Linked DNA regions of Homo sapiens. The protein of the gene in region 1 purifies or fractionates together with the protein of each later gene. This does not show direct contact. Each region holds a gene or a part of one and is shown in the gene's direction. Other genes may lie near its edges. The genes, in order: MAPK4, FASTKD5, AHCYL2 and ERC1.

What was found.
Region 2: the proteins of MAPK4 (region 1) and FASTKD5 purify together in Homo sapiens (affinity purification with mass spectrometry; 3 studies listed by BioGRID and IntAct, with this or other methods). This does not show direct contact.
Region 3: the proteins of MAPK4 (region 1) and AHCYL2 purify together in Homo sapiens (affinity purification with mass spectrometry; 2 studies listed by BioGRID and IntAct, with this or other methods). This does not show direct contact.
Region 4: the proteins of MAPK4 (region 1) and ERC1 purify together in Homo sapiens (affinity purification with mass spectrometry; 2 studies listed by BioGRID and IntAct, with this or other methods). This does not show direct contact.

Annotation. Positions count from the first base shown.
Region 1 is NC_000018.10:50,716,572-50,724,154, forward strand, and holds part of MAPK4 (mitogen-activated protein kinase 4), read left to right. Parts: intron 1-5,366; coding exon 5,367-5,528; intron 5,529-5,535; exon of another isoform or gene 5,536-6,368; intron 6,369-6,813; exon of another isoform or gene 6,814-6,849; coding exon of another isoform or gene 6,850-6,949; intron 6,950-7,583. UniProt on the Homo sapiens protein: Atypical MAPK protein. Phosphorylates microtubule-associated protein 2 (MAP2) and MAPKAPK5.
Region 2 is NC_000020.11:3,156,591-3,164,285, reverse strand, and holds the start of FASTKD5 (FAST kinase domain-containing protein 5, mitochondrial), read left to right. Parts: upstream 1-4,420; 5' UTR 4,421-4,520; intron 4,521-7,695. UniProt on the Homo sapiens protein: Plays an important role in the processing of non-canonical mitochondrial mRNA precursors.
Region 3 is NC_000007.14:129,220,372-129,228,181, forward strand, and holds the start of AHCYL2 (adenosylhomocysteinase 3), read left to right. Parts: upstream 1-4,658; 5' UTR 4,659-4,705; coding exon 4,706-5,068; intron 5,069-7,810. UniProt on the Homo sapiens protein: May regulate the electrogenic sodium/bicarbonate cotransporter SLC4A4 activity and Mg(2+)-sensitivity. On the contrary of its homolog AHCYL1, does not regulate ITPR1 sensitivity to inositol 1,4,5-trisphosphate.
Region 4 is NC_000012.12:1,077,870-1,085,452, forward strand, and holds part of ERC1 (ELKS/Rab6-interacting/CAST family member 1), read left to right. Parts: intron 1-5,294; coding exon 5,295-5,711; intron 5,712-7,583. UniProt on the Homo sapiens protein: Regulatory subunit of the IKK complex. Probably recruits IkappaBalpha/NFKBIA to the complex. May be involved in the organization of the cytomatrix at the nerve terminals active zone (CAZ) which regulates neurotransmitter release.

The DNA of each region.
Region 1 (7,583 bases):
CAGTCTCCACACGCTCTGGCTGCAGCATGAGCCCCGTGGGCCTGCCTCCTTGCCACCTGTCCTCTGCCTGGATTCCATGCCCCTACAGAACTCCGGGCCTCATATCCGGTCCTCCTGGCTGACCTCTCTTCTCAGTGCTTGCAGCCCCGCCCTGTCCTCCTAACCATGCTGTCTTGGCCTCAGCCTCCCTGTGAGTGCTCTCCCCACCTCCTCAGCCTGCCCTGCTTCTCCTCAGGGGCACCGTCTCCCCTCAGCTCTGTTGAGTTGAGGCCATCCTTTCTCCCATGCCCTGTACACAGAGCGGGATAGAGCCTCTGCATCCTCCTTGCTCACCATTGCTTGCCTGCTATTAACAAAGCAGCCCTCCTCTGTGGCCTACCAGATGGCCCCTCTTCTTCTCTATCTTGTCCTCCCGTGCCAGCACCTCATCTCATCTCCCATCATCCCCCACACTGAGGCTGTTGGCACCTACGTCATGGCCTCCCTCTCCACAATTGGTCCCACATCATTCTGGCTGTGAGGCTGATGTGACTCACTTATCTACTATCCTGACACAGAGCCCCACATCCTCAGTTCCTGGGACACTCACTGCCCTTGTTGTCAGCCTGTCCTCCCCACATCCACCCTGGACTTTGTGTCATCACCCAGAACTGCTCAGGGGAGGAGAGATCTGAAGCGAGTATCAGAGTGGCAGACGCTGGGGAGCTGAGTGTCCAGGGAATGGAAAAGGGCACGAAAGCTGGAAGGCCTGAGAAGTACCCACCCACCTCCTTGCTTGATCATGACTGCAGTGTGGCCCAGGGGGAGCGTGTTTTCTCTTGGCAATCAGCTTACAGGAGGCATGGCCAGCACTCATGGCCTGCATTGGTAGGCCTAGGCTCCTGGGGCTACCCCACACTTCCATGTTGGGAAGGGAGGGGGAGAGTGAGGGAGTAGGATAGCCTTACCCCAGCCCCCTTTCAGAACCCCAAGACCTAGTAAGATTCCCCCCACTAAAGCCCCTGAATCCCACAAAATATAAGACAGCAGTGGCCCTTCTAGTATCCCCTAAGAGCAAAGGTGTGTCCTTAGCATCCATGTGGGCTCCCTCCACCCTGAAATCTCTGTCTACAAACCTGAGCCTGCAAGTGGCAGGGCTAATCAAGATTCCCTGTGGCCCCACGGGGAGCCGACAATCTCAGTTGCTGGCCTGTTGTTCTTGTTCACTGTAGAGTGACCACATATGGGCAGCTGGTGTAATAATTAGCTCATGGGCACTGCAGACCACCTAAGCCCACAGGTGAAAAGGAGCTGCCCACTCACCTGTCAAAGCCCCTGGCTCTCACAGCTGCTCATCTGCTGTGTGCACAGAACATAGTGCTAAGGATGGGGAGAGGGATTGCTGTGGGACAAAGGGACAGTGAGGAGGCAGGGGGAGAAAGTCAGACAAGGGCCTCTCCAGGGAACTTATGGTCTTGAGACAGAATTTTAGATGCCAGCCCTAGAAGGGGCCCAGGACAGCCCACCTCTTTTTTAACAGGTGATTTGGTTTCAAATAATGCAGGGTGGGAAAATGAGCCCAGAGAAGAAGAAATGGCTAACAGTGGCCTTTCTGAGGGAACACCAGCAGGACATTAAGAGAAAGCCATGTCTGAATAGCTAAGAAAGTCTTTATTGTGTTTTGTTTTTGAGACAGTCTCGTGCTGTCCCCCAGGCTGGAGTGCAACGGCATGATCTTGGCTCACTGCAACCTCCACCCCCCATTTCAAGCGATTCTCATGTCTCAGCCTCCCGAGTAGCTGGGATTACAGGCATGTGCCACCACACCCAGCTAATTTTGTATTTATAGTAGAGACGGAGTTTTGCCATGTTGGCCAGGCTGGTCTCAAACTCCTGACCTCAAATGATCCACCTGCCTCAGCCTCCCAAAGTGCTGGGATTACAGGCATGAGCCACTGCACCCAGCCTGCCAAGAAAATATTTATATTGGGCACAGTTAAATCTTAGGCACCATAGGAGCAGATTTATCTAATAAGGAGTAATGAGAGACCCAGAAAATGTAATCTCTCAATCACAGCAATGAGGGAATTATTCAGTGCTATGCTGGGCTAGTCACTCTTTCATTCATGATGCTAACTTCTTCCAGTAAGTATTTAAAATACATGCTATATATAAAACATATATTAATATGATATGTTAATATTAATTATATGTTAATGTAACATTAAGTAACAAGAAAAGGTAAAATAGGTTGGGCATGGTGGTTCATGTCTGTAATCCCAGCACTTTGGGAGGCCGAGGTGGGCGGATTGCCTGAGGTCAGGAGCTCCAGACCAGTCTGGCCAACATGGTGGAACCCCGTCTCTACTAAAAATACAAAAAAATTAGCTGGGCGTGGTGGCATGCACCTGTAATCCCAGCTACTTGGGAGGCTAAGACAGGGGAATTGCTTGAACCAGGACGGTGGAGGTTCCAGTGAGCCGAGATCGTGCCACTGCACTCCAGCCTGGGCGACAGAGCAAGACTCCACCTCAAAAAAAAAAAAAAAAAGGTAAAATAAAAACAATGGCAGGAAAGTCAGATGAAGCTGAAGTCAGGGCTTATGTCCAAACATTTAGGCCCTGAGTACAAACGTCTTCATTTGCCCCCTGGACTCTCAGGAGCCCCTACAGTTTTCCCTCTGGTGGATTTTGTGCTTTGGGTGGATCCTTGACCACGTGCTGGGGATACAAGTCTGAGTAAGACATAGTCTCTGTCCTCAAAGGTCTGATGGTCCAGCAGGGGACACAAAAGGGTTAAAAACAAAACAAAAAAAAATACACAGTGAACCTATCTGTGCCCAGGGTGAGCCATCCTGCTATCTTATTTTTCCAACTGAAATTGCACAGACCTCCCAGTTCCGTATTTTCCAGCCAATTCAAGGCAGGGGAGAAAGGAGGAACAGGTGGGAGGGAGGTCTCGCCCTGGACTCTGACTCAAAGACTCTTCCCACCCTAGCCATAGCCACTAAACCCTGGATGGCTCAACATCTCTGGCCCTGCCCCCACGATCTGGGTCATAGGTGCCTGGCTGCCTCCATTCTCCCAGCCTTGAACCCTCAGCTCACAGGGCTGTGCTCCAGCTGCCCTTCCAACAGGCTGACAACCTTCAGGCCAGACGGAGAAGAGCTGGGCTTCTCCATACCACAGCAGGCAGGTGACTCACTGAGAGCCCAGACGAGACTGTATAATCCACAGTCTATTGGCCTCTCATCTTCAGGCTCACTGTCTGTGGTCACGAGATGGTCGCAATCGCTTTCAGGTTCTCATGCAGAAGTGTCCAACGAAGAAAGGTAGGGAGGGGTCAGCCAGGGCAGCCAAACAGCTCTCCTCACATTTCTCTCTTACCAGGGAGGAACACCTTCCCCGGAAGTCCTTCCAGGAGATTCCTGTCCCTGTTTGATTGAATCACATGGCCTCCCCTTATTGCAAGAGAGGCAGGGAAGGCAACAGCTGGTGTGACATGGAAAGGACCTTCTTTCAGTAGGAAAGGGACATTGACCATAGTATCCTCCATGCTTCACACCTTCTCCCATTTTCAGTGGTGGCTTAGTAGACTCAGTGTTAAGATGCCTCCCCCAAGTGACGTCTGTCACAAAGAATCACTCACGGATGATTAGGACATAAATCCCCAAGGTGGAATTATTCCATCAGCTTCTCTCAAAGCCACTCTTCCCCACTCCTAGAAGCAAAGGAAGTCAAGAGTTATTAAACATCTGCTACAAGCAAGGTATTTCTCCCGGAGCCTTCATCTGCCAACACACTTGACTCCTTATAATACTCATTCCAAGTATAAATAATCATCCTCATTCCACAAGGGGTGGGGGAGCTAGGTCTGCCTCCAGGGCTGTCTGCCACCAAAGCTCTTGCTTTCCGCCCCAGGCCATGGATTCCCAGGGAGGCCCCACTGGCTGCCTCCCATATGACACCATTGATCTCGGGCAGGAGCAGACAAGTGAAAGAGGCTCATTCTCTGCCCCCACCCCCGCTGTGGTTGAAGAAGCTACTCCAAGCAGAAGGTTGTGTATTACTAGTTTGTGTGTCACACAGGAGAGGGGTCAGGGGCTTGGGAGCAAGGTCCCACCATCTCTGTCTGCAGCTTGATCACCCATTGACCTCATGGTCCCCTGGTGGGTGGTGTGGAGTACACATTTGGAGAGAGGACCCCACAGGGGGCTTCCAGAGCCCTGAACTGACCCAATGAGTCCACTGCAGGGAGAGGCCAAAAGGACCTCTTCAGGAGAGAGCCTGAGGCTGCAGGCACTTCTTCGGTCAGTATTCACATGTGCTTAGGGCCACACAGGGAACTGTGGGGGCACCTGGGAGAGCCCTCATCCTAGGCTGGATGACTGGAAGACTGGAATCCCATGGGAATTCATGGCAAGGGGAGGGCCCTCTGTGCAGCTGGATGGGCAGGGAAGACTTCTTGAGGAAGGAGAGGTATGGCTGAAGTTTTAACCTAGTACAGCTAAGTGGAAAGGCAACTCAATCAAAAAAGAGAAAATGGAAGTACAGAAGAACAGCCTGGAGGTCAGAGAAGGACAGCAAGGAGACCCATCTGTCCAGAGCCAGAAATGCCATACGGTGGCCAGTGGTTGTCTGGGTGTGGGAGGTGAGTTGAGTTTCTGAGACAAAGACTGAAGCTTCTTATGAATGAAAACTATGCCTCACCGATTCCCAGCAGTCAGCGTGATGCCTGGCATGGAGAAGGTGCTCGATAAATAACTATTTATGGAATGAGGGAATAAATGAATGTTTGAGTCCATCCTGTCCCACCAAAGTGCCCCTGCAAACCTGGCATAGCCTGGCCTGCCTTCCTTCTCCCAAGGATCACAGAGGCCATGTGCTCAAGATACATCCCAAACCCAATTTGTTATTCCTGATTTGTTTTTCTCTTGAAAGTTTCCTAGATGGAACCCTCTTAATTAGAAACCAAAAGGTATGGCTCATTCCCAGCCTTAAAACTGTTTCCTTCCCCATCCTAGTAAAGATTGTGCAGAGAGGTCTATGGGAAGTTGCACTTGGAAGGCCTTGAGCCAGGCTGTTCCCATTCTTTAGTGCTGACTTATATCCAGCTGGTCTGAGACACAGAATGCTAGGGGAATAGATGGGGCCTTGCAGACTACCAGATTCAACTCCCTTTTTCTACTTTTGACAAAGCCAAGCCCCAGAGATGTCAGCCACCTGCCCACAGTTGAGCAGCAAATGAAGACCAGAACCCCGGTCCCAGCCCAGTGCTGCCCCACTGCCCTGTGTTGTCCCTCCCAGAACACCTGGCACTGCTTTTGGGCTACTGCACACCACAGCCCCTTGGACAGCACACTTAACCATCTGGCATTGCCTCCCCAGGGGCCCATGAGCTGGAGCAGATGCAACTCATCCTGGAGACCATCCCTGTAATCCGGGAGGAAGACAAGGACGAGCTGCTCAGGGTGATGCCTTCCTTTGTCAGCAGCACCTGGGAGGTGAAGAGGCCTCTGCGCAAGCTGCTCCCTGAAGTGAACAGTGAAGGTACCTGAGCCTGGCAGCCAGGCCAAGTGTCCTGGGAGGATGAGCTAGGCTCCACCTTGCGGGGTAGGGGGCAGGCAGGTCTCCTTCCAAAAGGGCAAAGCATGGTCCTTGGATATAAAAGTCAAGGCTCCCCTGCCAGTGGGCCTTTGCCCTAACTACTTCCAAGCTGTGGATGCTGGGCCTCAGGAGTCCATTAGGGGCAGTCATTAGTGTTCTACCCTTGTTTCTGCTGCCTTTTGCTTCTCATCTTCCTTGCTCACCTTCCTCCCTCTCTTTCCTTCATCCTCCCTCACATTTTTGTCCTGGAAGGCTTGGTGTGCTGCAAAGAACAGGAGCTTCCTCAGCCTGAGGGCAAGACCCAGGTCCCATTCCACCAGTGATGAGCTGTGTGGCCTCAGGCAAGGACCGCCCTTCACTCCTCAGGCTTACTCCCTCTACTGTATATTCAAGGCTCAGCAGGCCTGGGAAGAGGCCAAAGGCTCTAGCTGCCTCTAGCTCTCAGAGGCTCAGGAGACCCAGTCTCGGTGACAGCATCCCTCAGCAGCCGAAACGTCCATCTTGTGACAGGTGCAGAACAAGGGAGGCAGGCCCCAAGACCACACTGGGGGCATTAATTCTGAGCTCCATTTATTACAGGACAGAAATAGACCAAAGGTGATGAATCTGATGACAAAAACTCAGGTGCGGCACAGGTGAAAGGCGGGCTCTGGATGAAGCAGGGTTGAGGGGCTCAGTGTCCTGCCCACCTGCCTCTCAATCTCCAGACATGCTCCTGAGAACCCTTCCAGAACCCCTGGGGCTCTGAGCAGCTCAGTTTGGAATCCACTGGGCCAGAGGAAGGTGACAAGATTGTACAGAAGCTTCATTATCTAAGAAATGACTTAAAAACATCCGGGGAGGGTGAGCCTAGGGAGGAGGAGTTTCTGAGGGGCGGTGGCTTAGGAGTTAAGGTGAAGCTTGTACAGTAGCAGATAACCCTGAAATCTCCGTGGCTTAACCCACTTACAGTTTATTCATTGTTTACTTCACTTCCAGGCAGAGTTGGGAGCATGGATGGGCAGGGGAGGATGAGTGGCTGTGCCCGGGACCCAGGCCATCAGGTCTGCCATCTTCAGCAGGTGGCTTTCAAGGTCACCTTGGGCATTCCCTTCCAGCCAAAGCCAGGGGAAGAGAGAGCAGAGACTCTTGCAGGAGGTTTTTCTGGGTCAGGCCTGGAAGTGGGGTACACACAGCACTTCCACCCCCATTCCATCAGCCCCAGGCACACAGCCATTTCTCACTGCAGGAGGGGCTTGGAAAGGCAGGTCAGAAGGGTGCCAGGATGGATGTCACATGGGACATGACTGCTGCCTTGAAACAGAAGAGGGGAAATCGTGGGACAGAGAGGACATGCTGCTTTGGGGAAACCACTGAAGGCAGAGGTAGGCCCTAGGGTAGAAGTTAAAGGGGGATTTAAGTTTGATAAAAGGAAGTATTTTCTGGGGCAGGTGTGGTGGCTCAAGCCTGTAATCCCAGCACTTTGGGAGGCCGAGGCGGGCAGACCTCTTGAGCCCAGGAGTTTCAGGCCAGCCTGGGCAACATAGGGAGACCCCATCTCCACTAAAAATATAACAAATTAGCTGGGCATGGTGGCGCACACCTATGGTCTCAGCTACTTGGGAGTCTGAGGCAGGAGGATCACCTGAACCTGGAAAGTTGAGGCTGCAGTGAGCCGTATTCCCATCACTGTACTCCAACCTGGATGGCAGGAGTGAGACCCTGTCTCAAAAAAAAAAAAAAAAGAAATGAAGAATTTCCTAGTGTTTGGGCTTCCCAGAAGTATCTGGGGACCTGCAGGAGGATCAGCTGTCAGGGAGAGGGAAGAGCAGATTTTCATCCGTGATGGAGTCTGTGGAGCAGCTTTGGGGTTGGTACTCGACTTTTTTTCTTTTGCGACAGGGTCTCACTTGTCACCCAGGCTGGAGTGCAGTGGTATAATCATGGCTCACTATAACCTCAGCCTCGAGGGCTCAAGTGATCCTCCCACCTCAGCCTCCCGAGTAGCTGGCACCACAA
Region 2 (7,695 bases), on another chromosome or scaffold:
AGCACTGCCCCCGTGGCAGCCCACTTGGACCCCCCTAAAAGGAGGGAATAGGAGGAGGGCAGGGTGAGTGGGGGCAATCCTAGGTGGTGGGGGAGTCATGCTCCCTTTCTCGGCACCCCCTTGTTGGAGATGGAGGCAGCAGACGTGCAGTGCCATAAGGTGCCCCAGTCCTTCTGGAGGCCTGGGCTGCTACTGTTGGCCACCCTGTGTCTAGTGATGCTCTCTGTGCTCACCTCCTAGGCCATGGAGCCTGAGGGGGCCTGCACCAGGTTTGCTGAAACTGACAGAGCCTGGGCTCCAGACCTCTCTCCCTCCTACAGTGCTCTCCCTCCCTGGGCAGATTGGCAGGACAAGTGGGAGCAGATGGCCTGCCTTTGGCTGAGAGGGCTACCTGCCCAGCCCCTCCCCCAACAAGATCTCTTGGACTCAGGCCTCAGAGCCTGGCCTGGTTGTGAGTGTGTGTCCCTGTGTGTGTGTTGCGGGAGGGGAGGACTGGGGCTGGAAGTCCAGCACCCAGGGAAGATCTGTCCTCCTGTTCTTGGGAAGCGTTGCCTGACGGCTTCTCGGCTCTACCCTCACCCTTCTGGCCAGGATCCCGCAGGGCAACAGCCCCATCTGCTTGGCTGACCCCACACCCAGGACCACTGTCCGGCTCTAACACAGCTATTAAGTGCTACCTGCCTCTCAGGCACTCTCCTCGCCCAGTTTCTGAGGTCAGACGAGTGTCTGCGATGTCTTCCCGCACTCTATTCCCCCAGCCTCTTTCTGCTTTCATGCTCAGCACATCATCTTCCTAGGCAGTCTCTTCCCCAAAGTCTCACCTTTTCTTCCAATAGAAAATTCCGCTTGACCTTTGGTGCACTGCCCACTTCCCAGCTCCACTGGCCCAAGTCTGAGCCGGAGGCCCTTGTTTTGGGGGCGGGGGGAGAGTTGGATGTGATTGCCCTTGAAGAACAAGGCTGACCTGAGAGGTTCCTGGCGCCCTGAGGTGGCTCAGCACCTGCCCAGGGTAGGCCTGGCATGAGGGGTTAGGTCAGCCAATGTCAGCTGCTTCTCTTGGGGCCCTCTCAGAGTCTATCTCCCCAAGACAGGAAGGGAAAAGCAAATTTCTAATTCACCAGCAATAAAAATTGGAGGAGGCTTGGCCCTCAGCCCTTATATCTCTCTCTTTTTCACTCTCTTCCTCCCACCCCCAAGACTGAGTTTTGGGGGGCAAGGTGGAGAGAGCTGGCAACTACTGTGAGCAAGTCCCCTAGCCCCTGACCAGCCTCCTCCCATGACTGGTGACTGTTTAATGAGCTGTGCATCCCCCACAAAAACATGAGTGCCCCTCTGTGTGGCCTCTAACCCTCTGCACAGCCCTTCTGGGTGGTCCTCACCAGGTCTCTGAGCTGGGTGGGAGGCCATCCTGGCGACCACTGCCCATTCCATTCACCCCTCACTGTACCTGCCCTAGAACCTGGGCCTAGGCCACAGGGGCAGGGAGAAGAGAAGGCATTAGTAAGAAAAAAATAGAAAAAAATATGAACAGACTCAGCTTTGGGACGTCCAACCACAAAAGAAATTATATATAAATATATATAAATATATATCTCTACCATATGTGATGGAAAGACTTTTTGTTTTCCTTTCCCAAAGAAATAAAACGGAAAAAGCCTCTTGAGTGGTATTCTTTGGCCTGCTTGTGTCTTTGCAGGTGCGGGAGGTGAGGCCCGGGTGGGGGATGGGGGCAAAGCTGGAGTAAACAGATTTCCCAGAGGAGGCATGAGACTGGAGGTGCTCACTGGGCCGTGCTAGGAGGTTGGCCCAAAGCCCAAGTTCTGCCACGTTGCCCGGGAAGAGTCGTGGTGCCATGTATATGCCCAGTGGGGCTTTCTCTTCAGCTCAGACTGTTGCCAAAGGGGTTAAAAGCTGGCTCCAGCTCAGAATCTGGACACTAAGCTGCTAGCCAGAAAACAGGTGACGCAGGACAGCTAGATGCAGCCTGCAGTCGCCTAAGCCACCTTACAGCAACTGGTAGATGTTTGCGGGCTGAATGGATAGAAGTGAAGACTGGGAACAGGTTTGCAATTAATGGCGAAGCCCCAAAGGCAAAAGGGACCCAAGCGTGCTGCACAGCAGAGAGCTTCCCTTTACAACAGTTCCTCTGTCATCCTCTCAAAGCACACAATCAAGAATGCACTCTGCTGTAAGTAATCAAAGGACCTCAAAGAGTGGTTTATTTTTCCCCAACCTGACAAGAAATCCGGAGGTGGTGTCATGGTTGTTGGATCCTCGGGGACCTAGATTTTCATCCTCCCACTGTTCCATCCTTGGCATGTTGTTCCCTCCTTACCACAAAGTGGCTGCCACAGCTCCATGAAGACATTGAGGCGGCCCTACTTTATCATGAAAAGTAAAAGCTTTCCCAGAGCCCTCCCAGGACCCTTCCCTTTAAGTCCTGTTGGCCAGAACTGAGCCACATGCTCCTCCCACTTCAAGGGAGAATGGGAATTTGAGTATTACAAAGAGAAACAGGATTGTCATGGCTGCCTAGGAACAAACATGGTTCATTCCTTGGGGGCAGGCTCTCTGCTTTCTCTGGGTTCTACTGGCAAGGACAGAGTCATAACAATGAATAGTGTTTGCCCTGGTCTGGCCTGAGGGAGAGAACCCTCCCTAAGCAGTGGTGTCTGTGGTCTGGGGCTCCAGATATTCAAACAGCGCTGTCTCCAGAGCTCAGGAGTTGGGATGTCAGGCTTGCCCCTCCTGGCAGGGACGTGTTCTTCCTACATTGATTTTGTCTTCCCTACAAGATAGGCCCTGGAGGGAGCATGATTTCTCAGCTCTCCTTCACACCCCTTAGAGCCAAGGCATTGACAAGATATGAAGACCCTGATCAGCAGATCTCAAGTGCCCTCAGGAATGGCAGCCTGGGGCCAGGACTTTCTGATAGGTAGAGGTTTAGTAGAGTCTCTTTCTTGTCTAGGTACCTATACTGACAGCTGTGTCAATATATGTACCCAGTAGGACCCAGCCCTCCTTCTTAGGGTGGTGGAGAATCACCCTGGCTCATGCTCCATAGCTCTGGCCTCGCTAAGCCCCAGCTCCACATCCATTTCTCTCAGCAGGCTCATCTATCCATCATGTCACTAGCTCTTTTCCTGAGAGCACTTTACAGATACATCTCTATTATAAATGCATTAAAAAAAAAAAAAGATGGAGTCTCACTGTTGCCCCGGCTGGAGTGCAGTGGTGCAATCTCGGCTCACTGCAACCTCTACCTCCTGCGTTCAAGTGATTCTCCTGCCTTAGCCTCCCAAGTAGCTGGGGTTACAGGTGCACGCCACCATGCCCCGCTAATTTTTTTTTGTATTTTTAGTAGAGACGAGGTTTCACCATGTTGGCCAGGCCGGTCTCCAACACCGGGGATTACAGGTGTGAGCCACCACACCCGACCAATGCATTGTTAAAATTAGACAGGTGTGGTGGTGCATGCCTGTGGTCTTAGCTACTCAGGAGGCTGAGGCAGGAGGATCACTTGAACCCAGGAGGTTGAGGCTGCAGTGAGCCATGATTGCACCATTGCACCCCAGCCTGGGCAATGGGGCAAGACTTTGTCTCAAAAAAAAAAAAAATGTATTGTTTTTCTCACTGTACAGGCTTAGAGAATTTATGTGGGCCGGGTGCGATGGCTCATACCTGTAATCCCAGTACTTTCGGAGGCTGAGGCGGCAGTATTGCATGAGCCCAGGAGTTCGAGACTAGCCTGGGCAACATAGGAAGACACTGCCATCCCCGTCTCTATGAAAATAATAATAATAATATAACAAGAATGAATTTATGTGACTTCTCCAAGGCCATAAAACCCTGAGTGGTGGTCCTCAGATTTGAACATGTGTCTAAGCTACTTACTTTTTTTTTTTTTTTTTTTTTTTTAGATGGAGTCTCGCTCTGTGTCCCAGAGCTGGAGTACAGGGGTGCCCAGACTGGAGTACAGTGGCGAGATATCGGCTCACTGCAACCTCCGCCTCCCGGGTTCAAGCGACTCTCCTGCTTCCGCTTCCTGAATAGCTGGATTATAGGCGTGCGCCACCACGCCCGGCTAATTTTTGTATTTTTAGTAGAGACGGGGGTTTCACCACGTTAGCCAGGCTGGTCTCGAACTCCTGAACTCAGGTGATCCGCCCGCCTTGGCCTCCCAAAGTACTGGGATTACAGGCGTGAGCCACCGCGCCGGGACTAAGCTGCTTAATGACTTCCAGAGCGATCCATCCAGGAAGGTGTTTTCCCTCTGCAGGTCCTAGACTCCCCCTGCCTCCTCAACAACGTCCTCCAGTGGAAAATGTCCTTGGGAAACGCTGACAGAGTCTTTTGAGCCTCGGCCGCATCCGTCACTCGCGCAGCAGGCGGAAGTAGCGGGCAGTTGGCCGGAAGTGGGGCTGTGAGGCTCGGAGTCGCCGGAGGAGCCAGTATCTGTGTCGCCGCCGCCCGCGGCGTCCCCGGTTTGGTGTTGCGGCGCCCACCTTCGGGAGGATCAGGTGAGTGGCGGCGGCCGGGGAGGAGGTCGCGGCGGCCTCTTTCCGCGTTCACGACCGTCCTGGGCCTTGGCCTGTGCCTCCTGTCCTCCCGGCCGGCCCAGAGCTGGAGCGCATCGAGGCCTTGTTCAGCTCTTGGCCTGGGTTGCCAGTGCCTCTCGCAGGCCTGGCTGTGGTGAGAACTTCAGTGACTCTCGCCGCTCCTGAGTTTGTGATCTTTGGCAGGGGGCTTATCTGACCCTTGATTTTTTTTCCTCTGTGAAATGGAGATCGTAACAGTACTTGTCTCACGGTGCTGTTAAGAGAATGTAGTCAGATATTCTGCCGCGCCTCTCATCACACTTTGATGTGCCTGCGAATCGCTTAGAGATTCTGATTCTGTAGGACTGGGGTGGGTTCTGAGATAACTGTGTTCCTAACTAGATTCCAGACGAGGCTGAAGCCTCTGGCACGCAGACCACACACTGAGTAGCAAGGCCCTACAGTATGTTGCTTAGCATTTGGGATGCGGAGTCTTCGGTAAACATCAGTATGATAGGATATATACCTTCCCCCCATTTTTAGCAGTTTCTCGTTGCACAAGCCTAAGGGTAGTATTGATGGCCTTCTCCCTTTTTCTTTCCGTGGGTAAGAATAGTTGCTCTTTCTCTTTCTGTGCAAACCGTGACACAGCTCTTCTGTCTTGACTCAGGGAACTTTGGGTCCCCTCATATCAGCTGTGTTCATCAGTCTTGGGTGATGCTTCACTGATCAGACCCTTGGACAGTGCTTCATCCTGTGGAGCTGATAGCCAGCTGCGTTAGCACCAACTGTGGCTGGCGTTTTGTGCTCCAGTCATTTGTTGCTGCTGGAATCTGAATTCACGTTTTCTACACTTTGTGAATAGTAAGAATGGCTGCCTTTCCAGAACTAGATTCTGTAGCTCACTGACCTGAATGGTCCTGGGCAAGTCCTTGGATAGTTTGCTACTACCTGGTAGACTAAAATAAAATCTGGGCCGGACACAGTGGCTCACGCCTGTAATCCCAGCACTTTGGGAGGTCAAGGCGGGCGGATCACGAGGTCAGGAGATCGAGACCATCTTGGCTAATATGGTGAAACCCCGTCTCTACTAAAAATACAAAAAAATAGCTGGGCGTGGTGGCGGGCGCCTGTAGTCCCAGCTACTCTGGAGGCTGAGGCAGGAGCGTGGCGTGAACCCCGGGAGGCGGAGTGTGCAGTGAGCCGAGATCGCGCCACTGCACTCCAGCCTGGGCGAGAGAGCGAGAGTCCGTCTCAAATAAATGAATAAATAAATAAATAAATAAGTAAATAAAATCTGAAGACTCTGTGCTGCATAACATAACTTAAAAAGTGAGGCCTTTGGCAGTTATGCAGGTCTAATGTTTATTAGTCAGTATGATTTTCTTCCCCATCCATTGGTTTATTTTTTTAGTCCCTAATAAGGCCTTGCCATTCATCATGTGAATAAGTCAACTTTGATATAAAATAATTCTAAGGTCAGGTGCGGTGGCTCATGCCTGTAATCCCAGCACTTTGGGAGGCCGAAGTGGAAGGATTACTTGAGCCCAGGAGTTCGAGACCAACCTGGGGGCAACATAGGGAAACTCTGTCTCTACGAAAAAAACAAAAAACAAAAAAAACACACAAAAAAACAAAATGTAGCCAGGCGTGGTGGTGGGCTTGTAGTCCAAGCTACTTAGGAGGCTGAGGTGGGAGGATCGTTTGAGATCCTTGAGCGATCCTCGCCCGGGAGGTTGCCGGGGTGAGAGGTGGGGGGCAGTGGTCGAGGATGCAGTGAGCGGAGATTGCACCACTGCCCTCCAGACTGAACAACAGAGCGAGACCCTGTCTGAAAAAAAAAACAAAAGAATTCTGAAACTCCTTCTTTATTTGTCTGAAGTATGTACTATACAGCCTCTATACAGCCTTGCAAATTGTAAAAGCAGATAAAACCAAGTGTTTATTGAGCTAACAGTTATAGGTACTTGGACCATTTATTTGGGAATTTTCTCTTATGACGACTGTGTGCATGCAGCTACTTCTCTTTACCTGCCTGGATTTTGTAATTCCTCTAGAAGCCCCATTTAGATGGGCTGAGAGGACATGAGTGCCTACTGCCTGTTGTTATATGGAGAGGTTTTCTAAAGACAGGGTTTTATGAAACCCTTTAAAAGCAGTAGCTCTAACAGAATCATCTACAGGGCTTAGTCATACTATATCTACCCACATCCTTCTTGCCATTCTGATAGAGGAATAGCAGAGTCTTAAAAGAGAAGCGGAAGGGCTGTGTAGCTGAAAAAGTTTCACAAATGTTTGTGATGTGCTGTTTTTCTCCTATCAGCATGGAGTCTAGAACAAAAAGGAAGGGATGGATTGCTAGACTGAATAATTTTAGTTTGGCTTAGACCTGCGAGTGACACTGAACTTGACCTAAACACCTTTGCACTAGTGCTTCACCTTCGCAGTACTGGTAGACTCCTCTCTGAGGCCCTGCTCCCGTGTGGAAACAGAAACACAGAAGAGTCTAGCCCAGTTAACATCCACATTAACAGCTAAGGTCCTTACTGCCAGTCTCTAAGCCCTCACTAGGGGCTTTGAAGTTTTGTAGATTCTCAGCAGAATACCTCAGCACCTAGAGAAAGTTCGGTTTTTTTGCCCTTTTTTTTTGGTAGAGACAGGGTCTCGCCATGTAGCCCAGACTGGTCTTGAACTCCTGGCCTCACGTGATCTGCCTGCTCGGCCTTCCAAAGTGCTGGGATTATGGTCATGAGCCACCTGTCTAGCCAGTTTTTTTGCCTTTTTAATTCTTAAGGTTGCTCAACAAATTATTTGCTGAGACAAGAATAGGGTTGGAGTGTTCATTTATTTGTGGCAATTTTATTGGGACATAGAAAGGAAAAGTGTTAGAATTGAGGGATCAGATCTGGTAAGTGGTAAATTGTATGTGTTTAAGGTGTCTTATACTCAGTCTACAGTTAGCATCGCTCCTTCCTCTGCCTGGCCCCCCTCCTCTAACTTCTAGACTCTAGTTTAAAATGAAGCTATTCGGCTCTGCTCAGACCGGTATGTGGAAGGGAGAAAGGTAAGATTCTTCAGTCCTGTGAAATCACATCATTCAGGGAGGTTTGGGCATTGCCTTTTGGAACTGACAGGGTCCAGGAGTGTCTGAGGCTCT
Region 3 (7,810 bases), on another chromosome or scaffold:
GTGGCTCATGCCTGTAACTCTAGCACTTTGGGAGGCCAAGGCAGGCAGATGGCCTGAGCTCAGAAGTTTGAGACCAGCCTGGGTAACATGGTAAAACCCCGTCTCTACTAAAATATGAAAAATTAGCTCGGCATGGTGGTGGGTGCCTTTAGTCCCAGCTACTCGGGAGGCTGAGGCAGGAGAATTGCTTGAACCTGGGAGGCGGAGGTTGCAGTGAGCCGAGATTGCGCCACTGCACGCCAGCCTAGGCAACAAGAGCGAGACTCCGTCTCCAAAAAAAAAAAAACAACTAGAAGTTCGAGACCAGCCTGGGCAACATAGCAAGAGCCCTACTCTACCAAAAACATTTTTTTTTAATTAGCCAGGTGTAGTGGTGCAAACCTGTAGTTCCAGTTACTTGGGAGGCTGAGGTGGGAGGATTGCTTGAGCCCAGGAGGCAGAGGTTGCAGTTAGCTATGATTATGCCACTGCACTCTGGCCTGGGCAGCAAGAGTGAGACTCTGTCTCGAAACAAAAAACCAAAGTTTTCTTCATATGTCTGGTGACTTTGGTTGTCTGTTCATACTTAAGAATGTGACACTAAATTGTTCACGGAAGCTCTGTGAACATGAGTATGGTCTTCAGGGCGGGTGATCTGGCTGGCTTATTTCCTTTGGAAACTCTCAATGTTAGTATCTTTGTTTTCTCTCTTGGATTGGTCAGATACCTCAGAGAAATTCTTCTTTTTTTTTTTTTTTTTTTTTGAGACACAGTCTTGCTCTGTTGCCCAGGCTGGAGTGCCGTGGCGCAATCTCAGCTCACTGCAGTCTCTGCCTCCCAAGTTCAAGCAATTCTCCTGCCTCAGCCTCCCGAGTTGCTGGGACTACAGGCGTGTGCCACCACACCCAGCTAATTTGTGTATTTTAGTAGAGACGGGATTTCACCATGTTAGTCAGGCTGGTCTCAAACTCCTGACCTCGTGATTTGCCCGCCTTGGCCTCCCAAGTGCTGGGATTTCAGGTGTGAGCCACCGTGCCTGGCCAAGAAATTCTTCTTTATTGGCCGGGCGCGGTGGCTCAGGCTTGTAATCCCAGCAGTTTGGGAGGCCAAGGCGGGCAGATCACGAGGTCAGGAGATTGAGACCATCCTGGCTAACATGGTGAAACCCCGTCTCTACTAAAAATACAAAAAATTATCCGGGTGTGGTGACACGTGCCTGTAGTCCCAGCTACTCGGGAGGCTGAGGCAGGAGAATTGCTTGAACCCAGGAGGCAGAGGTTGCAGTGAGCCGAGATCATGCCACTGCACTCTAGTCTGGGCGATGGCACGAGACTCCATCTCAAAAAAAAAAAAAGAAAAAGAAAAAAAGAAATTCTTTTTTATACCAATGTCCTGCATGGACGTTACATTCCTGCTTGCCAGCGTTCTGGAAGCTGAATGAGCCGGGTGAAGGAAGAAGACCTGTAGTCCAAATATTTCATTAAATAGTTCATAAACTGGTGCTTAATTACCCTGTTTCTAGTATGTAATTTGATCTTCAACTGTACCTGGTGTCCCTCAGCTACAAGGATGGCAGAAGCAGCAGGTATGTAGGGATGGAGTTGACAACAGGTTGAAGAATGTGTCCTGATGGTTGGCCCCAATCAGTGGTGGTGACTGGAATAAAACAGGGTATCAGTTTCATTCCAGTGCTCTAACTCCTTATATTTTATAACCACATCACACTGAAGAATTAATTCATCCTCTCAGTAATCAATTCTAGTGGCAGGTAGGCAGCTGCTGCCTATGAGCTCCAACACATGCCAGGTGGCTGTACCGTAGCTCCCTTGAGCATTAGGGGGAAGAATGAAATCAGTTACAGAGCTGCTAATCTCTGCTCCGACAGCTGGAGGATGAAGCTCTGGGCTGGTTTCTTTTTAACAGGAAGGAAATTCTGAAAGCCGGAATGTGAAGAAAAAACTTAAGAATCTCTTGTGTCTTGTGAGCTCTGTGGAAATGGCAGTGCTCAGATGCCTTCCGACATGTACTGTGAGGCACAAATTTGGAGATCAGGAAATGAGAGCCTCCATTCAAGGCAGGACAACCACACAGAGTGAACAGATTTCCAAAATAGTAGGACAGGAAAGAAGATCGAGGCAGGTGATTTCTCTCCCTTCTCCTTCTTTTTTTTTGAGACAGAGTCTTGCTCTGTTGCCCAGGCTGGAGTGTAGTGGTGCAATCTCGGCTCACTGCAACCTCCACCTCCTGCGTTCAAAGGATTCTCCTGCCTCAGCCTCCTGAGTAGCTGGAACTACAGGCAGAAGCCACCACGCCTGGCTAATTTTTGTATTTTTATTAGAGATGGGGTTTCACCACGTTGGCCAGGCTGGTCTCGAACTGCTGACCTCAAGTGATCCACCCGCCTCGGCCTCCCAAAGTGTTGGGATTACAGGTGTGAGCCACCATGCCTGGCCTCCTTCCTTCTCCTTGCCAGGCAAAACACAGTGACACCAAAGACTAGATGTCTAAAGAGTAGCTGTCCAGTGGCTGCCTGGGTTGTTAGGGCTGTAAGTCTCTGAAACAGCTGTAAACTGTATGAACCCCTTTGCTCCTGTTTCTCTGAGCATAGAGAGGAACCCCCCCCATAATCTGTCGCGAGTCAACTGCATTTTGTTTTTTTAAAGTATTCTTTTTTTTTTTTTTTTTTTTACGAGACGGAGTCTTGCTCCGTCGCCCAGGCTGGAGTGCAGTGGGGCGATCTCTGCTCACTGCAAGCTCTGCCTCCTGGGTTCACGCCATTCTCCTGCCTCAGCCTCCCGAGTAGCTGGGACTACAGGCGCCCGCCACCACGCCCGGCTTATTTTTGTATTTTTAGTAGAGACGGGGTTTCACCGTGTTAGTCAGGATGGTCTCGATCTCCTCACCTCGTGATCTGCCTGCCTCGGCCTCCCAAAGTGCTGGGATTACAGGCTTTTTAAAGTATTCTTTACATAAAATCTTATGGCATGTGCAATTTTGTCTCTTGCTTCTTAGCTTAATGTTTTTATCATAAGCATTTATTCTGAAAGCCAGAATGCCTTGATCTTCTTTCCTGTGCTATTACGATTTTGGAAATCTTCACTTCGTGAAGTTGTCCTGCCTTGGAGTCTCTCATTTCCTGATCGCCAAATTTGTGCCTCACACTATGTATCGGAAGGCGTCTGAGCACTGCCATTTCCACAGAGCTCACAAGTGTACCAGACACAAGAGTTTCTTAGCTTCCTCTTCACATTTTGGCTTTCAGAGTAAAGAATGAAAAAGGGAAAACCTTGTTGTTAAAAAGTATTGGCAAACAATTTTCTTTCTTTCTTCCTTTTTTTCTGGGACGGCATCTCACTCCGTTGTCCAGGCTGGAGTGCCGTGGCATGATCTTGGCTCACTGCAGCCTCTGCCTCCCAGGTTCAAGCGATCCTCCTGCCTCAGCCTCCCAAGTAGCTGGGATTTCAGGTGCCCGCCACCACGCCTGGCTAATTTTTGTATTTTTAGTAGAGATGGGGTTTCACCATGTTGGCCAGGCTGGTCTTGAAGTCCTGATCTCAAGTGATCTGCCGGCCTTGGCCTCCCAAAGTGCTGGGATTACAGACGTCAACCACTATGCCCAGCTGGCAAACGATTTTCAAAGGCTGTAACAATTGCTCTATTTGTTGGACATTAGTTTTAGACAGTTTTTTGTTATTAAAAAGGACGCTGCGGTGCATGTCTTTTTGCTTACATCCTCTAAATGTAAAATTTAAAAATAATACAGAAAAGTACAAAGTAAAAATCACCTTAAATCCCATCACTTAGGAAATTAACTACTCATATTCACTATTCATATCCCTCTATGCTGATATATGTATCTGAATTTCAGATGATTGCCCTATTAGAATTATAGGTGAAAAGATTTGGCCTCGTTTAAGGCAACGTGTAATTCCTCAGCCTTGAATTTTGATCTAGTGATACCTAACTTCTTTGAGGAATGATCTTAGCTTCCAAACCCAGAATGTGACAGAAAGCGCCACAGCAAGCAAGGTCCTACTTTATCCCTTCTAAAAACAAAGCCACTGAAGTTTGGAAGGGTGTTGAGTTCTCAATATCACAAAGAAAAATAAAGCCACTTCCAGCCTGGAGCCGCCGCTTCTCCTTTAAATACTCGCTCACGTGATCGCAGACGGGCACGCGCGGAGGAACTTCACGCTGTCAGGACAACGAGCCATTCCTCTACCACTTCCCCTCCCCTAAGGCTTCTTGGCGTTCCCTCCCCGGAAGTCACAACTCCTCTGGAGACTTTCTCTTCCTCATCCCCTCCGTCGAGTCACCTATCCTCACTCCTTTCTGTTAGCTGCCGGCCCTAGCGCTCCCTCTCCTCGGCTGAATCTCACTTAGTGGAGGAAAGGCTGAAAGGACTACAACTCCCAGGGGACGCTGCGGGCCCCGCCCATGGGGCGCGCAGTGTAGGTCGGGGCCTGAGGTCCCACGGTCTTCTCGCCGCGTGCGGCCGGGAGCAAACGCACTACAGGTTCCGTGGCGCCTCGCGCGAGGCCAGACCGGGACGGGGCGGGGCGGGGCTGGAGGGGCCGGGACTGGCGGGCGGAGAAAGGGGGTGGGAGAGGAGGCGATGGAGGGGAGGAGTGGGGACATGGGGGAGGGAAGAGGAAGGGAGGTGGGAGGCGGGGCCGACCAAGAGCAGGAGCTGGAGTCTGAGCCGGTGGTTGCAGCGGAGGCGGTGATGTCGGTGCAGGTTGTGTCAGCCGCGGCTGCCGCCAAGGTGCCTGAGGTGGAGCTGAAGGACCTGAGCCCCTCCGAGGCGGAGTCGCAACTAGGACTGAGCACGGCCGCCGTGGGCGCCATGGCCCCCCCGGCGGGCGGTGGAGACCCTGAGGCTCCAGCTCCCGCCGCGGAGCGGCCCCCGGTCCCCGGCCCGGGCTCGGGGCCCGCCGCCGCTCTCAGCCCCGCCGCCGGGAAGGTGCCTCAGGCGTCGGCCATGAAGCGGAGCGACCCACATCACCAGCACCAGCGGCACCGCGACGGCGGCGAGGCCCTGGTCAGCCCCGACGGCACCGTCACCGAGGCGCCGCGCACAGTCAAGAAGGTACTGGGGCCGGGCTGCCTCTCTAGGAGAGGAAGGGAGGGGAGGGGAACTGCAGATCCTCTCGGCACGGCGGCACCACCCTCCACGCCCTCCTTTCTGATCGCAGGACCGGAGATACCCCTTGTCCCCTTAAACCCACTCTCTCAGAGATGCCCCCCAGCCGGCCCCTCGTGCTGGGAGCGGAGACTCCAGGAGGCACGGCCGTACTTCGCTCTGAATAACATGGAGGTAGCGCTCTCCCCTACTACTTGGAATAGGCAGCGGGAGGAGAGACACCTAATAGTACGTCCCGCGGCCCCAACACGCTCCCGGGTGTGATTTTCCAGCCTATCGGGGAAGAGACCTCGATAGTATAGAAAAACCTTACCGCTCACGGGAGTTCACACAGCAATAAGGATGAAAAGATCTTTAATACTTGGAGAACGAGTAAGGTGTAGTCACCTTGCATAGAAATCGTCAGAGTTGTCTGGTTTCCATACAGTTGATGACTTTCTGCCTTTCTGTGGCCAACCGTGGCCATACAGCAACACGATGCTGTGCCCTTCATTTCCAGCGACTGCGATATTCTCTCTTCCCTGAATATGTAAAAGGGTAATGGAGAGATTCTCCTCACTCTTTCGTGTTAAGAGCTTTGTCCTCCCTGCTGGGTATAGTTGGTCACCAGGATTATTAGGCTGTGTATGAAGAGAATGAATGTCTTATTGATTGCTTTATTATAATCTGAAAGTGATAGGAAGAAATGCTGCTACTTTTGGGAAAGACGATCTTTGTGGGGTTTTCGGTCTTAGGCGTCAGCTTCTTTCAGACAGTTTTGAGGAGGTCTCAGAATACCAAGAAGTAACTGCCTAGGTGGATGATAGCCCTGTATTACCCGTACATTGTCTATCCATAGTTGTCTGTCTCTCTCAAAGCTTGTCTTTCTTTCTCTCTTAAAGCTGAATCAGCACAGAAAAACAGGGCAAGTATTGGAAAAGACAGAAGTGTGGATCATATAAAAAGGGCTTACAGCTTCAATTTCGTAGACACAGTATGGGCACAGGGATTAATGTTTTTTTTAAATTGTTGTGAATGGTTTTTAATTGCTTTATCAGAACAGCAACAAAGAGACGGGAAGTGTGCATTGGTTTTACTGTGTGGGACCAGCTGAATTGGAACCTTGGATCCACCATAACTTTTTGTTGTCATAGCGTCATGATTAAGGTATAGCGGATAATCCTTTCATCCTAACGATACAAATTTAGGTGATAAGTCAGAGGCAAGACTGAAGGAATTTCTGTAATGCTTTAGACAATGTCTTTGTCGTTTGTAGTATGAAACTCCTCTGGGAAGAATTAGAGTAGAAAGAGGCAGCATCCTGCAGAAATGGGTTTAAAGAAAAAAAGTAAAGTAAAAAAGAGAGGCAGCAGCAGCACCAGTGCTGGGAGTACCTAGATCTGAGTCTGGAAATCCAAAGCATACTTCTGACTTGTTGAGATACTTTGTATCGTTAAGTCATTTTCTTGTGATAAAGACTGTTTTTGTCTAAACTTTGTAATTTGGTTAGATTTCTTTAGGCTAAAAGTGTTTAACAAATTGCTTTTAGAGCATGAAGTTTACAGTCAGGCAGACCTGGATTTGAAGCCTAGTACCCCCATTACTACCTTTTGGGTAATTTCCAAATTACACAAATCAGTTTCCTCTTCTATAAAATGAAAGTACTAATTATGATTGAGGATTAGAAATATTTGTAAAAGGTTTAGCATTGAGCTTGGCACATAAAGTCTTAAATGATATTCTTACTAATGCTTTTATTATTATGAATAATTGATTTTATTTTATTCCTCCCATCATGGCTTAAGTGCAAGCCCCCATGACCACCTCTGAAAGTTACACACAGTTCAATATATTCTATATAAAGAAATTAAAAAATCATGGCTCACGTCTGTAATCCCAGCACTTTGGGAAACCACGGCTGGTGGATTGCTCGAGTCCAGGAGTTTGAGAACAGTCCGGGCAACATGGTGAAAACCTCTCTCTCCAAAAAAAAAAAAAAAAAAAAGAGCCGGGCATGGTGGTGTGTGCCTATAGTCCCAGCTACTCAGGAGGCCGGGGTGGGAGGATCACCTGAGCCCAGGAAGTTGAGGCTGCAATGAGCACTCTAGCCTGGGTGCTGGAGTGAGACCTTGTCTCAAAAAAAAAAAAAAAAAAAAAAAAGTTAAAAAATCAAAGACCAGCATACTGGAGTCTGTTTTTCTTAATTCTAGATGTGCTTCTTGACCACTTTCCTTGTCGTTGAACCATCTTCCTGTTTTTTCAGCACCAAATGTATGTTCCATGATTGTAGATATACTCAGCAGCCTCAAGGCTATTGTAAAGCAGGGCTGAGCTTGCCTTACAATGTTAATTGCACCAAAAAAACAACTTCTCTGCTGAAAGTTAAGCAGGTGAAGCTCTGGGCAAGGATACAGCTGGATGACGAAATTCAGGGCATTGCTGAGCTGCTTTTCAGGTGCCCAATCTTTAACCTTCTTGATATTGAATTGGCTAAATCAAAATAAGTGCCCAAGACTGCCCTTTCCCTAAGTTGAAAGTCATCTCACCAAGGAACTGCAGTGTGACATTTTGATTTGTTGAGCCTTTGTTGATTCTTAGATTGTCTATGTAAATAACCACTTTGACCTTGACTCCTTACTGTTTTTCTTATAGCATATGAAGGAACTGAGAATACTAGTATTGAAATAGCTGCCTTTGGCTGTGGAACTG
Region 4 (7,583 bases), on another chromosome or scaffold:
TTTATAAAATAAAGCTAGCCTGATTGTAGCCAAAAGAGGAAATGTTGGTTTATATTTTAGTGGAGAAAACTGCTGTATAGACTTCTAGGCTACCAAGTCAGAGCATTGTTTTATTTTTATACTATAGTAAAATGGGTGCAGGCGGAGCTGAAGAACCAGACACACTAGTAGTTAATGTTTTCTTTCTTTACCAAAATAGTAATTGCCATGCTACATTTAGCCATATGTGCCAAAGCGTATGTGAAACTGTTAACTGTAGCCAACATATATTTCTCCTGACTTGAATGAATTGATGACGAATGGTCAGAAAAGGAGGAACAGTCATACCTAGAAATCAGCTTCCCTGTTGAATTTCACTTCTGGTATTTCCCTTTGGGATATATTCACTCAGGAGTGTCAGGATTTTTTTTGACTTCCAAGGGAAAGAAACTAGGCTTCAGAGAATTAGCATTTTGATACATCTTTTTATTGAAGGTCTTTTGAACTCCAGCAACTGTTAATCTTTAAAAGATGATGCTGGTAGTGAAATGCATTTTAAAATTTATATTCATGAATTTAAATTCCTGATTTTTTTTTTTTTGGTGAGTTTATTCTTCGAAAGAAATAGCAGTGCTTTTCAAGTGTTTGAAGACTACCAGAATTGAAAGCTCACTGCTTGCTAAAAGCATAATACCCAAACCGGAAATGATAAAGGAAAATGTCATTGTCTTTGTATTAAAAAAGAAAATATCTATTAAAAGTCATCATAAACAATGTTAAAAGAAAAATGGCAGACTTGGAAAAATATTTGTAACATACACAGCAGGTGAAAGGTTATTTTCCTAATATGAAGAGCTCTTAAAATGGATTAAGAAAAAATGTTCAATAACAAAATGGGCAAAGAACAAGGAGAGAGGAGTCACAAAAGTTGATATACAAAGACACAGATAGAAATGATTTGTAATATGACAAAAGTCGATATACAAAGATACATATAGAAATGATTTGTAATATGACAAAAGTCGATATACAAAGATACAGATAGAAATGATTTGTAATATGATAAAAGTCGATATACAAAGATACAGATAGAAATGATTTGTAATATGACAAAAGTCAATATACAAAGATACAGATAGAAATGATTTGTAATATGACAAGTCGATATACAGAGATACAGATAGAAATGATTTGTAATATGACAAAAGTCGATATACAGAGATACATATAGAAATGATTTGTAATATGACAAAAGTCGATATACAGAGATACATATAGAAATGATTTGTAATATGACAAGTCGATATACAGAGATACAGATAGAAATGATTTGTAATATGACAAAAGTCGATATACAGAGATACAGATAGAAATGATTTGTAATAAGACAAAAGTCGATATACAGAGATACAGATAGAAATGATTTGTAATACGACAAGTCGATATACAGAGATACAGATAGAAATGATTTGTAATATGACAAAAGTCGATATACAGAGATACAGATAGAAATGATTTGTAATATGACAAAAGTCGATATACAGAGATACAGATAGAAATGATTTGTAATATGACAAAAGTCGATATACAGAGATACAGATAGAAATGATTTGTAATATGACAAAAGTCGATATACAGAGATACAGATAGAAATGATTTGTAATATGACAAAAGTCGATATACAGAGATACAGATAGAAATGATTTGTAATATGACAAAAGTCGATATACAGAGATACAGATAGAAATGATTTGTAATATGACAAAAGTCGATATACAGAGATACAGATAGAAATGATTTGTAATATGACAAAAGTCGATATACAGAGATACAGATAGAAATGATTTGTAATATGACAAAAGTCGATATACAGAGATATAGACAGAAATGATTTGTAATATGACAAAAGTCGATATACAGAGATACAGATAGAAATGATTTGTAATATGACAAAAGTCGATATACAGAGATACAGATAGAAATGATTTGTAATATGACAAAAGTCGATATACAGAGATACAGATAGAAATGATTTGTAATATGACAAAAGTTGATATACAAAGATACATATAGAAATGATTTGTAATATGTATCAGAATTACAATTGTACATACTTTGTGATCCAGCAATTCCATCTTTGAGAGTTCCCAAGAAAAATGTGGATTCATGTGTAAAGATACATATGTGAAGGTGCATCTTACAATAGTGAAAAATGAGAACTAACCTAAAATATCCGTAAGTGGAATTTTATGACCAACATCTTCTCTCCAACCAATTTTTTTATTATGGTAAAATATATATAACATAAAATTTACCATCTTAACCATTTCGAAGTGTACAGTTTAGTGGCATTCAGTATATCCCATCTATCTCCAGAACTCTTTTCATCTTGACAGACTGAAACTGTATACCCATTAAACAATAACTCCTCGTTCTGTCCCACTCCTATGTCCTGGCAACCACTGTTCTAGTTCCTTCTTTATCAATTCGACTGCTCTAGATACCTCATGTCAATGGATACATATAGTGTTTGTCTTTTTGTGATTGGCTTATTTCACTTAGCACAACGTCTTGAAGGTTCATCTGTGTTGTAGCATGTGTAAGAATTTCTTTCCTTTTTAAGGCTGAAAATCATTAGCAGGTGATATGGTTTGGCTGTGTCTCCATTCAAATCTCAACTGGAATTGTATCTCTCAGAATTCCCACATGTTGTGGGAGGGCCATAGGAGGAGGTAATTGAATCATGGGGGCCAGTCTTTCCCATGCTATTCTCGTGATAGTGAGTAAGTCTCACGAGATCTGATGGGTTTATCAGGGGGTTCCGCTTTTGCTTCTTCCTGATTTTCTCTTGCTGCCGCCATGTAAGAAGTGCCTTTTGCCTCATACCGTGATTCTGAGGCTTCCTCAGCCATGTGGAACTGTAAGTCCAATTAAACAAGTGCCTTTTGCCTCATACCGTGATTCTGAGGCTTCCTTAGCCACGTGGATCTGTAAGTCCAATTAAACCTCTTTTTGTTTCCAGTTTTGGGTATGTCTTTATCAGCAGCGTGAAAACGAACTAATAGAGCAGCCACCTTATTTCCAAAAAAAAAAAAAGATTTTTTCAATGGATAATGCAGGTATTTATACCCTTATTTAAAGTATGAGGGATCTGAAACCCAGAAAGATGGTGACATGTCTAAATGTCATAACTAGTCAGCGTGAGAGTCAGAACTGAAACTCATGTTTTCTCATCACAGTTTCGTGTTCTTCCCAGTATGGTACACTGCTTAGGCCTTGAATACAAGGAATGATCTTTTATTGTTGCTTCTTCATTCCTAAAAATAAGATTTTTGATGTCACAGCCTTTTGGAATTCATTGTATAATGTGCTGGAATTTACATAACCATTCAGATTAAAGGTTCGTGTACCTTCTTTAGGGATAGAAGCTAAAGATCTACCCTCTCAAACATTTTAGTAGTTCATCTGCATTAACACCTTTATTTAATTAGCCACCCATGTTGTTACCGTCCCCTGTATAAAAAGCTTTGCATATTCTAACTTAAAAAAACTTTGCTATATTATTATCTTTGGGTATTACCAGTTTTGATTTCTGCAATCTGCTCTGTTTTTGCTACTAGAGGAGGAAAGCTGATTTGGAGTTTTCTTTTTTTCTTGGTTCTAGTTTTAGTGGGCTGCAAGGATTGCTTTGAATGCCAGCTCTATCACTTACTCTGTGATCTTGGACAAGTGCTTAAACCTCTCTAAGCCTCGTGCCCTCATTTATAAAATTAAATAATAGTACATGTGTTGGGTATCTAAAATAGTCAAATTCACAGAATCAAAGTGTGTAATGGTAGTTGCCGGGGGTAGGGGGAAATGGAGAGTTACTAATCAACAGGAATATAAACTTTTGGTTGAGATGAATAAACTCTACAGATTTGATGTATAACATTGTACCTGTAGTCAGCAGTAATGCATTGTACACTTAAAAGTTGTTAGGAAAGTAGATGTCATGTTAAGGGTTTTTACTACAGTAAAATAAAAAAAGAGTCCATGTGTCATAATGAAGATTAAATAACATAAAAAATGTGTGGTACAATCTGGCATATACAAACTACTTGTTAAATGTTAATATTTATTATTTAATGTTTATAATACTTAAAAGTCATTTTGTATTTCGCTGTCCTTCGGTTTTGCTTGTTTGTTTGTTTGTTTTGACACGGAGCCTTGCTCTGTCACCCAGGCTGGAGTGCAGTGGTGTGATCTTGGCTTACTGCAAACTCCACCTCCCAGTTCAAGCAATTCTTCTGCCTCAGCCTCCTGAGTAGCTGGGATTACAGGTTCGTGCCACCATGCCTGGCTAATTTTTCTATTTTTAGTGGAGACGGGGTTTTACCACGTTGGCCAGGCTGGTCTTGAACTCCTGACCTCGTGATGTGCCCGACTCGGCCTCCCAAAGTGCTAGGATTACAGGCGTGAACCACCGTGCCTGGCCAATTTTTGTATTTTTAGTAGAGATGGGGTTTTATCATGTTGGCCAGGCTGGTCTTGAACTCCTGGTGATCCGCCTGCCTCGGCCTCCCAAAGTGCTGGGATTATAGGTGTGAGCCCCCGCGCCTGGCCATCCTTTGTATTTTTTGATGAAAAAAAAAAATTTTTTTTTTTTTTTTTTTTTTAAGACAGAGTTTCACTCTTGTTGCCCAGGCTGGAGTGCAATGAGTGCAGTCTTGGCTCACTGCAATTCCCACCTCTCAAGTTCAAGCGATTCTCCTGTCTCAGCCTCCCGAGTAGCTCAGATTACAGGCACACGCCACCACGCCCGGCTAACTTTTGTATTTTAGTAGAGACAGGGTTTCATCATATTGGTCAGACTGGTCTTGAACTCCTGACCTCAGCTGATTTGCCCACCTTGGCCTCCCAAAGTGCTGGAATTACACAGGTGTGAGCCACCACGCCCGGCTGTTTTGATGAAATTTTTTGAAAGAATGTATTCATATTCCTGTAGATTTCCCATTTCCCACATTCCCTCAAATTTAGTTTCCGTGTTAATATCTTCTATTAATTTTGAACAGTGTCTTTATTGTAGTTTATGCAAAGTGAGGAGTGAGTGCCATACTTATTTTGCTTCCTGTTGAGAATAAACTGAAGTTAAATTACTGACATTTTGCATATTATCTCAATCATTTTTTAAGGACCTGTAAAACAGAATAAGGTGAATCCTAATTTGCTAGATGCAGATTTCTTGTAGCTATTTTTGATTCCTGCAGGCTGCTCTGATTTGCTACTTGAGGAGGAAAGCTGATTTGGGGGTTTTCTTTTTGTCTTGGTTCTAGCACATGCAGATGACAATCCAGGCTCTCCAGGATGAATTGCGGATCCAGAGGGACCTGAATCAGCTGTTTCAGCAGGATAGTAGCAGCAGGACTGGCGAACCTTGTGTAGCAGAGCTGACAGAGGAGAACTTTCAGAGGCTTCATGCTGAGCATGAGCGGCAGGCCAAAGAGCTGTTTCTTCTTCGAAAGACATTGGAGGAAATGGAGCTGCGTATTGAGACTCAAAAGCAGACCCTAAATGCTCGGGATGAATCCATTAAGAAGCTTCTGGAAATGTTGCAGAGCAAAGGACTTTCTGCCAAGGCTACCGAGGAAGACCATGAGAGAACAAGACGACTGGCAGAGGCAGAGATGCACGTTCATCACCTAGAAAGCCTTTTGGAGCAGAAGGAAAAAGAGAACAGTATGTTGAGAGAGGTATGTGACTACTTTTTTAGTTTTATGATTTGTTGGTTATCTTTTTTTTCACTGATTAATCAGCATCTTGGCCCCAGTGAATCTACGTGCTCTGCCGTGCTGGTGGAAGAGAATTTCATCCTTTGTATTTAAGTGCGTCACTGATTTCTGTTCTGATTTGCCCTGTTGTATGGGATGACATTGTCTGGTATGTATGCTGGCTCAGTGACTTTCTGGGTCTTTTCTCTCCTGCTCCCCTGATTTTGAGAGTTCATTTGTTGCTAAAGGGGTAAAAAATTCCTTGATTTTTCACTCATCTCTAGATCTGTTCATAGAGACAACAAACACAACAAAACCAGAATCAGAATAGCTAACCATTGCTTAATTTAAAAATATTAGTAAAAGAGAGTAAGCGGTTATCTCAGCTTATGTGTGCTTATAAAAGTCCTTGGCAGCAATAATGGATATTTGCCCTGTGGTTTCCATGGAAACTGTTGCCTTGCTGTAAAAGATACGTGATAAAAATCATTGGCTGCCATGGAGGCATAGCTGGAGAGAGTGATGTAGAGACACAGTGTTACTTATTTTTAGCTGACCTAGGTGACTACTGATAATTTTTTACTTTTCTAAATAATGTATCATTTTAAGAAGGCGTAAAGGAAGAAACCATCTTATATTGAATTAAAAAATTAATAGCCATAATAACTTTTCTATATATAGTTGGACTTCAGGTAATTTTCACTTTTGGGCAGGGGAAAATAAATCCCTAATCTGTGTTAGTATGAGTCTGAATAATTCCTTTTTAAATAAAATGTGAGGAAGGAGGTTTAAAAAATGGCGTATTCCCAAAGCAGCAAAATAATAATTTTTAAAAATACTTCTAAATTTGTAGGTTGTTCTATAATTTTTCCTTTTGTAAAAAGTCTGAAATCTTTTTTAACAGTGAGGGCATTTTTATTTTTGAAGTAGAACATCATTGTTTTTTAAAAACATGATGTTATTACACTGGAAATCCATTGTAGTAAAATTGGGAAATAGATTAACAAAAACTTATAACTCAAAGTATTGTTACCTAGTAGTAATTATTAACTTATGTATATGCTTCCAGTCATTTTTTTTTTATTTTAAATTTTTATTGTTTTTATTTTTAGAGATAGGGTCTCACTCTGTCACTCAGGCTGGAGTGCAGTGGCATGATCATGGCTCACTGCAGCCTTGAAATCCTGGGCTTAGGTGAGCCTTCTGCCTTAGCCTCCCTAGTAGGTAGGTCTACAGGTGCATGCCACCATGCATTGTTAATTTTTAAATTAAAAAAAAAATTTTGTAGAGACAGAGTCTCCCTATGTTGCCTAGGCTGGTCTTGAACTCCTGGCCTCAAGCAATCCTCCCTCCTTGGCTTCTGAAAGTGCTGACATTACAGGCAATATGCCTATGCCTGGCCCATTATTATTATTGTTGTTGTTGTTGTTGAAAGTGCTGAGATTACAGGCAATATGCCTATGCCTGGCCCATTATTATTATTATTGTTGTTGTTGTTGAAAGTGCTGAGATTACAGGCAATATGCCTATGCCTGGCCCATTATTATTATTATTGTTGTTGTTGTTGAAAGTGCTGAGATTACAGGCAATATGCCTATGCCTGGCCCATTATTATTATTATTGTTGTTGTTGAAAGTGCTGCGATTACAGGCAATATGCCTATGCCTGGCCCGTTATTATTATTATTGTTGTTGTTGTTGAAAGTGCTGAGATTACAGGCAATATGCCTATGCCTGGCCCATTATTATTATTATTGTTGTTGTTGTTGAAAGTGCTGAGATTACAGGCAATATGCCTATGCCTGGCCCATTATTATTATTATTGTTGTTGTTGAAAGTGCTGAGATTACAGGCA